Linked DNA regions of Homo sapiens. The protein of the gene in region 2 purifies or fractionates together with the protein of the main gene of each other region. This does not show direct contact. Each region holds a gene or a part of one and is shown on either strand. Other genes may lie near its edges. The genes, in order: DFFA and CYP4B1.

Region 1 (3,567 bases), about 36 Mb from region 2:
AATTTTTTATAATTTCAGTAGAGACGGGGTTTCACCATGTTGGCTAGGCTGGTCTCGAACTCCTGACCTCAGGTGATCCGCCCACCTTGGCCTCCCAAAATGCTGGGATTACAGGTGTGAGCCACTGCGCCCGGCCTATTGTGATATTTCTTTACTTAATAACTAGCAGATGAATCTCTTAACAGTATTCTGTTTTCCTCTAAGCATGCATAAAAAGTGGTCAAATAAGTCCATGATGACTCATCACCTTTTCCCTGCAAGGAGTGTACTGTAGATTACCAAACCTGCAGAAGCCGTCTGTGTGGAGACAGGAGGAGGACAAACCAGGCTTGCTCTGCTTCACACCCAGAGACCTGGAGCCACAGCATGTGGAAATTGCTTTCATGACCTTTTATACCCCCTGCTGATAAAGCAATTAGAAAACTGAAGAGTTTCACGGTGGTGAGATAGAATTTCACAATACTGAGTGAGATATTAGCAATGGACTCTCCGTATGTCCCTATGGTCTACAAGCTTAATATGTATCTTTAAACAAACACATAAAAAAATTCATTAACTGGAGAAACAAGATTGTGGCCATAGTCAACACTCTATAATGTCACCATCTTCACCACTATCTCTGCTTAAAATTCTGCCGTACTATCTTCAGAATAAGGATAATGAATTGGAAATACGACCATTTCTTTTCATTGCCCTTGATGGTTACCTTTTTAAAAAAAAAAAAAAAAAAGTAGGGTCTTACTCTATCATCCAGGCTGGAGTATGGTGGCATGATCAGCCTTGAGCTCCTGGGCTCAAGTGATACTCTCGCCTTAGCCTCCAGAGTAGCTAGGATTATAGGTCAGTGCCACCATGCCTGGCTAACTTAAATTTTTTTTTTGTAGAGACAGGGTCTTGCTATGTTGCCTAAGCTGACAATTACTTTATTTAAAAGCTTTTTTTTCTGGCCAGGGGTGGTGGCTCACACCTGTAATCCCAGCACTTTGGGAGGCTGAGGTGGGTGGATCACCTGAGGTCAGGAGTTTGAGACCAGCCTGGCCAATGTGACAAAACCCTGTCTCTACTAAAAATACAAAAATTAGCCGGGCATGGTGGCACGTGCCTGTAATCCCAGCTGCTCAGGAGGCTGAAACAGGAGAATCGCTTGAACCTGGGAGGTGGGGGTTGCAGTGAGCCGAGAATGTGCCACTGCACTCCAGACTAGGTGACAGAGTGAGACTCTGTCTCAAAAAAACAAAACAAAACTTTTTTTTTTTCTTGAGATACGGAGTCTAGCTCTGTCACCCAGGCTGGAGTGCAGTGGTGCGCTCTCAGCTCACTGCAACCTCTGCCTACCGAGTAGCTGGGATTACAGGCACCCGCCATCATGCCCAGCTAATTTTTGTATTTTTAGTAGAGACGGGGTTTCACCATATTGGCCAGGTTGGTCTTGAACTCCTGACCTCATGTGATCCGCCTGCATCGGCCTCCAAAGTGCTGGGATCAAAGGTGTGAGCCACTGTCGTGCCTGTCCTTTTTTTTTTTTTTTTTGAGACAGAGTGTCACTCTGTCACCCAGGCTGGAGTACAGTGGCATAATCTCGGCTCACTGCAACTTCTGCCTCCCCGGTTCAAGCAATTCTCCTGCCTCAGCCTCCCGAGTAGCTGGGACTACAGGCTCCTGCCACCACGCCCAGCTAGTTTTTTGTACTTTTAGTAAAAACACGTTTCACTGTGTTAGCCAGGATGGTCTCGATCTCCTGACCTCGTGATCCACCCGCCTCGGCCTCCCAAAGTGCTGGGATTACAAGCGTGAGCCAACACGCTCGGCCTGGCTTTTTTTTTTTTTAACATGTTCCATATGGGGCAGGGCTAAATGTTAGGCAGTGCGCCCATAGTCACTGCCAATTACTTTTTTTTTTTTTTTTTTTGAGACGGAGTCTCGCTCTGTTGCCCAGGCTGGAGTGCAGTGGCGCAATCTCAGCTCACTGCAAGCTCTGCCTCCCAGGTTCATGCCATTCTCCTGCCTCAGCCTCCCAAGTAGCTGGGATTACAGGCGCCCGCCACCATGGCTGGCTAATTTTTTTTGTATTTTTAGTAGAGACAGGGTTTCACCATGTTAGCCAGGATGGTCTCGATCTCCTGACTTCACGATCCGCCCCCCTCGGCCTCCCAGTGCTGGGATTACAGGCGTGAGCCACTGCGCCTGGCCAATCACTGCCAATTACTTTTGAACAGAGAACATCATATGTAATTAGAGGAGGCGGGATATTGTTGGTGCAGCTATATCATTCAAAATTGGCAGAAGTCCTGAAGCTGGTGGGGCTAAAAAAAAAATTGGTGGAACGGCGTATGTTGAGACCTGGAATAGCTTCTCTGGAAGGTGCTCTAAGGCAGGGGGTAGAGTAGTACATAGGTAGTCAAATGATGAGGCTGAGGGTGTCTACCAATAACACAACGCCACAGAGCTTCCTTGGCACACTTCCCGCTGCTGCTATGTGGGATCCTGTCTGGCTCGCTTAGGATTCTGCAGGTCACCAGGTGGTGAGGCCTTGCTTGCTGAGATGCTCCGGAGAGAATGCAAGCTCTGCGTCTGCTGCAGGCGCAGGGCGAGCTCCCGCTCACAGGCCTCCTGAACAGTCTCCGTCTTCTTTATGTCCCAGTTCAAGGCAACAGCCAGTGCTTTGGGGTCTTCCTTGGTAACCAACTGCAGCAAGAATAAAAACCCCTGAGAACTGGGCCTTCTGTGCGCCTCTCCTGCTGCTCTCCTGACTCTCTTTTGGGGAGTGCAATGAGGCAGTATCCGTTTATGTTACCTCTTTACACTGAAATGCCGGGTTTCCTTTACCATTAATTGCCACGGGCTTTTTGTTTTTTGAGACGGAGTCTCGCTCTGTCACCCAGGCTGGAGTGCAGTGACACTATCTCGGCTCCCTGCAAGCTCCGCCTCCCGGATTCACGCCATTCTCCTGCCTCAGCCCCCTGAGTAGCTGGGACTACAGGTGCCCACGACCACGCCTGGCTAATTTTTTTGTATTTTTTTTAGTAGAGACGGGGTTTCACCGTGTTCGCCAGGATGGTCTCGATCTCCTGACCTTGTGATCCGCCCACCTTGGCCTCCCAAAGTGCTGGGATTACAGGCGTGAGCCACCGCGCCCAGCCTGCCATGGGCTTTTTTAAGACGGAGTTTCACTCTTGTCGCCCAGGCTGGAGTGCAGTGGCGCGATCTTAGCTCACGCAACCTCCACCTCCTGGGTTCAAGTGATTCTCTTGCTTCAGCCTCCCACCACCATGCCAGGCTAATTTTTGTATTTTTAGTAGAGATGGGGTTTCGCCATGTTGGTCAGGCTGGTCTCGAACTCCTGACCTCAGGTGATCCACCTGCCTCGGCCTCCCAAAGTACTGGCATTAACAGGCGTAAGCCACTGTGCCCGGACAAGCATGGGCCTTTTCTTACAACACCAACAGGAAGAAGTCCTTGGAAAGTTTACTTGGAGCAACTCTAAGGTCCTCCACCTTCAGGAAATTTAGCCAAGCTCAAGTCAACAGTTTCCTTCCCTTCTATCTACAATAGGGAGGTACTTATGAC
Region 2 (3,813 bases):
TTGAGGGGCCCAAGTGGTTGCAGCACCGCAAGCTGCTCACACCTGGCTTTCATTATGATGTGCTGAAGCCCTATGTGGCCGTGTTCACTGAGTCTACACGTATCATGCTGGTGAGCTCCCTGTGCCAGAGTACTGGAGGCTGTTGCCTGCTGGGCTAGCCCCTCTCCACCCTGATTTTGTCCTGGGGAGAGTAGGTGGTGCTCTGCAGTAAGGAGAATAGCTGAGCCCCAAGGCCTGTTCTGCCTGCAACAGCAGTGCCAAAGCCCTGCTCTACTGACATGTGCCGCAGGCTGCCACTGAGTCGGTGCTGAATCTCTAAGTGTCCTGGCAGCCCGATCCTTGTCTCCACCAGGAGACCCAGCCCTCTTTCCTCCCAGGCCAAAGGGTCTCTGTGAGAACTTAATAAGGCTCCTAGCATAGCAGGTTTGAGGACTGCCTATATTTGAGAGTATGGGGAAAGGCTTTCACATCTAAAACGTGTCTCCTCATTTTCTGTCTACCACAGCTGCCCAGAATTATGTCAATACAACTCATCTCTAAGAGGGATGTCAGAGGTCAGGGTTAGAGTCTTAGGGCTGGGTAATCCCTAAGTTATCCAGGCTAGTCTTTCCCCTTGTAGGAAACTCCCCTCCAGGATTACTTACATATACACCATGCGGGGGAGCTCACCACCTCTCAGCCATCCTACTCCCTTATAGGCTGCCCTGACTGGGAGAAAACGTCTGTGTGCTGTGCAAGATCTGCCTCCTGGTCCTGCCCTCTGAGCCTGAAGCCCAGAGGCTTCCAAACTTCTACCCACCCTATCCTGATATTCCAGCAGGATGGAGGGCAGGACAGGGACTGGGAGTGTGTGAAGGGGGCTTGGTGGTGGAGGATAGGCTACGGGTCCTGGAGGGCAGCTTGGGGCATCCAGCCCAACTAACCCCTGCATCGCCTCCTACACATTGCCTCCTATCCCTGGACTCCAGGACAAGTGGGAAGAGAAAGCTCGGGAGGGTAAGTCCTTTGACATCTTCTGCGATGTGGGTCACATGGCGCTGAACACACTCATGAAGTGCACCTTTGGAAGAGGAGACACCGGCCTGGGCCACAGGTCAGGAGCCACCTCGGGGCTGACCGCACTGTCTCCAAAGCCATCTTAGAGGGGAGAGTTGGCAGGGGTCCTGGGCTCTGATCTGAGAAGAGATAGGGTCCTGCCCCAGGGAGCCTTAGCTTGCGGGGAGACAGGACCTGCTCATGGTGGGGTAAACACCTGGCTTTAGCAAGGAGGCTTAAGGGCAGGGAGAAGAAGAGCAGGATGCTCTGTGGTTGGGGCTAGATTCCTGGAATGGAGTTTCTCTGGCTCTGCTCCTGGGCCAGTGTCTAAGCCAATCCCTCCTCCTACCCTCTGCTTAGCAGGGACAGCAGCTACTACCTTGCAGTCAGCGATCTCACTCTGTTGATGCAGCAGCGCCTTGTGTCCTTCCAGTACCATAATGACTTCATCTACTGGCTCACCCCACATGGCCGCCGCTTCCTGCGGGCCTGCCAGGTGGCCCATGACCATACAGGTGGGCCTTTCCCACAAGGCTCACCTCTAGGAAGCCTGGGTTCCTCCTCCTGGCCCCTCTATGCCCCCTCCCATTATAGGACCCCAGTTCCCCTTTGGACAAAAGATGGCTTCCCAGGCAGTGACACTCTGTGCTTTTGGTTCAGACCAGGTCATCAGGGAGCGGAAGGCAGCCCTGCAGGATGAGAAGGTGCGGAAGAAGATCCAGAACCGGAGGCACCTGGACTTCCTGGACATTCTCCTGGGTGCCCGGGTGAGTACATTGTTGCCCACCCCTACCTGAGGACTGGTCCCAGAGAGGTCTTCAACCATCCTCCCAGGACAGCAGAAGGAGCTCTTAAGCATTTCCCCCTTTCCTCAGCAAATATAACCTGTTCCTCGTCCCATGAAACATATTAGCAGGGGTTCAGAGGTGGGCAGGTGTAGGGTGTGTGTGCCTGAGCTGTGGAGTTGGGAGCCTAGGTCACGTGGTAGTGGCTGGACGACATTTCTAGACTTCTAAGATCCCCCAAAATGTTGGCCTTGTAGAATCCTAGAATCTTAGACTTCATTCATTCATTCATTCATTCAGTAAGTTCTTTATTCATCAATTCTAGAAACTCACTGAGTTCTGACTCTGGGTCATTTCCGTGCTAGGATGCAGAGATGGGAAAGACCTGGCCCTTCCTTCCAGATGCTTACAGTCCAGCAGGGGAGACAGTAGGTAGATGTTGACCAAAATGTCTTCCTCTGGCAGGTGGTATTCTATGTGCCCAGTGAGCAGAACAGTCAGGGCTGGACAAGGTCACAAGTCATTTGGCCAGAGCATTTAGGGAGGGCTTTGTGGAGGAGGAGGCATCCAGGCTGAGCTTTGAAGGAATATAGGAATCTGGGGGAAGGTCCTAATCCACCCTCTGAAAAGGAGCTTTCACTCCCTCCCAGAGACCTTCATTTGACAACCACCATTATGAGTTCTTCTTGTTACCCACCTCCAATACCTCAAGCTGTCCTATTATGCCTTCCCTAACCCAGGATGAAGATGACATCAAACTGTCAGATGCAGACCTCCGGGCTGAAGTGGACACATTCATGTTTGAAGGCCATGACACCACCACCAGTGGTATCTCCTGGTTTCTCTACTGCATGGCCCTGTACCCTGAGCACCAGCATCGTTGTAGAGAGGAGGTCCGCGAGATCCTAGGGGACCAGGACTTCTTCCAGTGGTGAGTCTGAGGGTGGGCCCGGTTTATCCTGCTCAGCCCTTGGGAAGGGCGATGCCCATCCTGTCCTGAACCATCCTGGAAATCAGGTGAGGTGGCGGCTGCTATCCTGTTACCCCCAGTGTCATACCTTTTGTGGTGGTGGGGGGTGGGGAGAGTGGTTGGCTGGGCACAGATGCACCCCTGAGCCCATTCTCCCAAAATGGAGCCTTTCAGAAGTGTTATGTAGAGAAAGTTGTCAACAAGAGGCTGATATTTTGTGTGCTAACTTCTTCTGACGGTAGAACCTGATTACCCTTCTGGGTCCCTGGATAGAGTAGGGAGAGCTGGGAGAGAAAGAGGTGGAAATGTGGGGGTGAACAGAGCTGAGACAGCTGGGAGAGCCAGTTCCTTGCTACTTGCCTTTGGATGGCAATACTCAGCTTCCAGATGCCATATCTCTCCTGCTGGTGAAGGAGAAAAGACTTCCCCAAACTTCATCACTTAAAAACTTTCCATTGTTTTCCCCTGTTTCTTGGCTCAAGACTGAACTCCTAAACACTTAAGGATTGACCCTGACCTCTCTGCAGTGTGATCTCTGGGAGTCTCTCAAGAGGCTCCTTCACCCTTGCTGGCTGCCTGTTCCCCTCAGGCCTTTGCTTGTGGTCAGACAACCTGCCTTTCTCTCTGGGCTCCTGAGCAGCCTCCAAGAGGGGGCTAGGCACACAGCAGGGGTACAGAAAATGCTGAGCCAGAGGGGGAACTTTAGATCCACTTGAAAGGGACTGACCTATAACTCCAGGGTCTAGGACCTGGAGTATGAAGCCTCCATTACCATTTCTGTTGGTCATATGTGAGAATCCCCCCCCCACGGGGTATCCAGACACATGCCAGGTGCTATCAGGGGTGCAGAACGGAAGAGAAAGAGAAGCCATGCTGCTCGTGGGGAGTTTTATGGAGACAAATTCACATAATCAAACAGCGAGAGAAAAATCACAGGATCACGTGGTCTGAATGTTGAGGGCAGAGGGAAGGAGTGAGGCTTGAACTGACTTTCTAAGGAGGGTTAAAATTCAGGCAAAGAGA

What was found.
Region 1: the proteins of CYP4B1 (region 2) and DFFA purify together in Homo sapiens (co-immunoprecipitation; one large-scale study listed by IntAct). This does not show direct contact.

Annotation. Positions count from the first base shown.
Region 1 is NC_000001.11:10,459,018-10,462,584, forward strand, and holds part of DFFA (DNA fragmentation factor subunit alpha), read right to left. Parts: exon of another isoform or gene 2,686-3,567; coding exon 2,473-2,685; 3' UTR 1-2,472. UniProt on the Homo sapiens protein: Inhibitor of the caspase-activated DNase (DFF40).
Region 2 is NC_000001.11:46,812,514-46,816,326, forward strand, and holds part of CYP4B1 (cytochrome P450 4B1), read left to right. Parts: coding exon 1-110; intron 111-968; coding exon 969-1,093; intron 1,094-1,395; coding exon 1,396-1,550; intron 1,551-1,695; coding exon 1,696-1,802; intron 1,803-2,560; coding exon 2,561-2,751; intron 2,752-3,813. UniProt on the Homo sapiens protein: Cytochromes P450 are a group of heme-thiolate monooxygenases. In liver microsomes, this enzyme is involved in an NADPH-dependent electron transport pathway.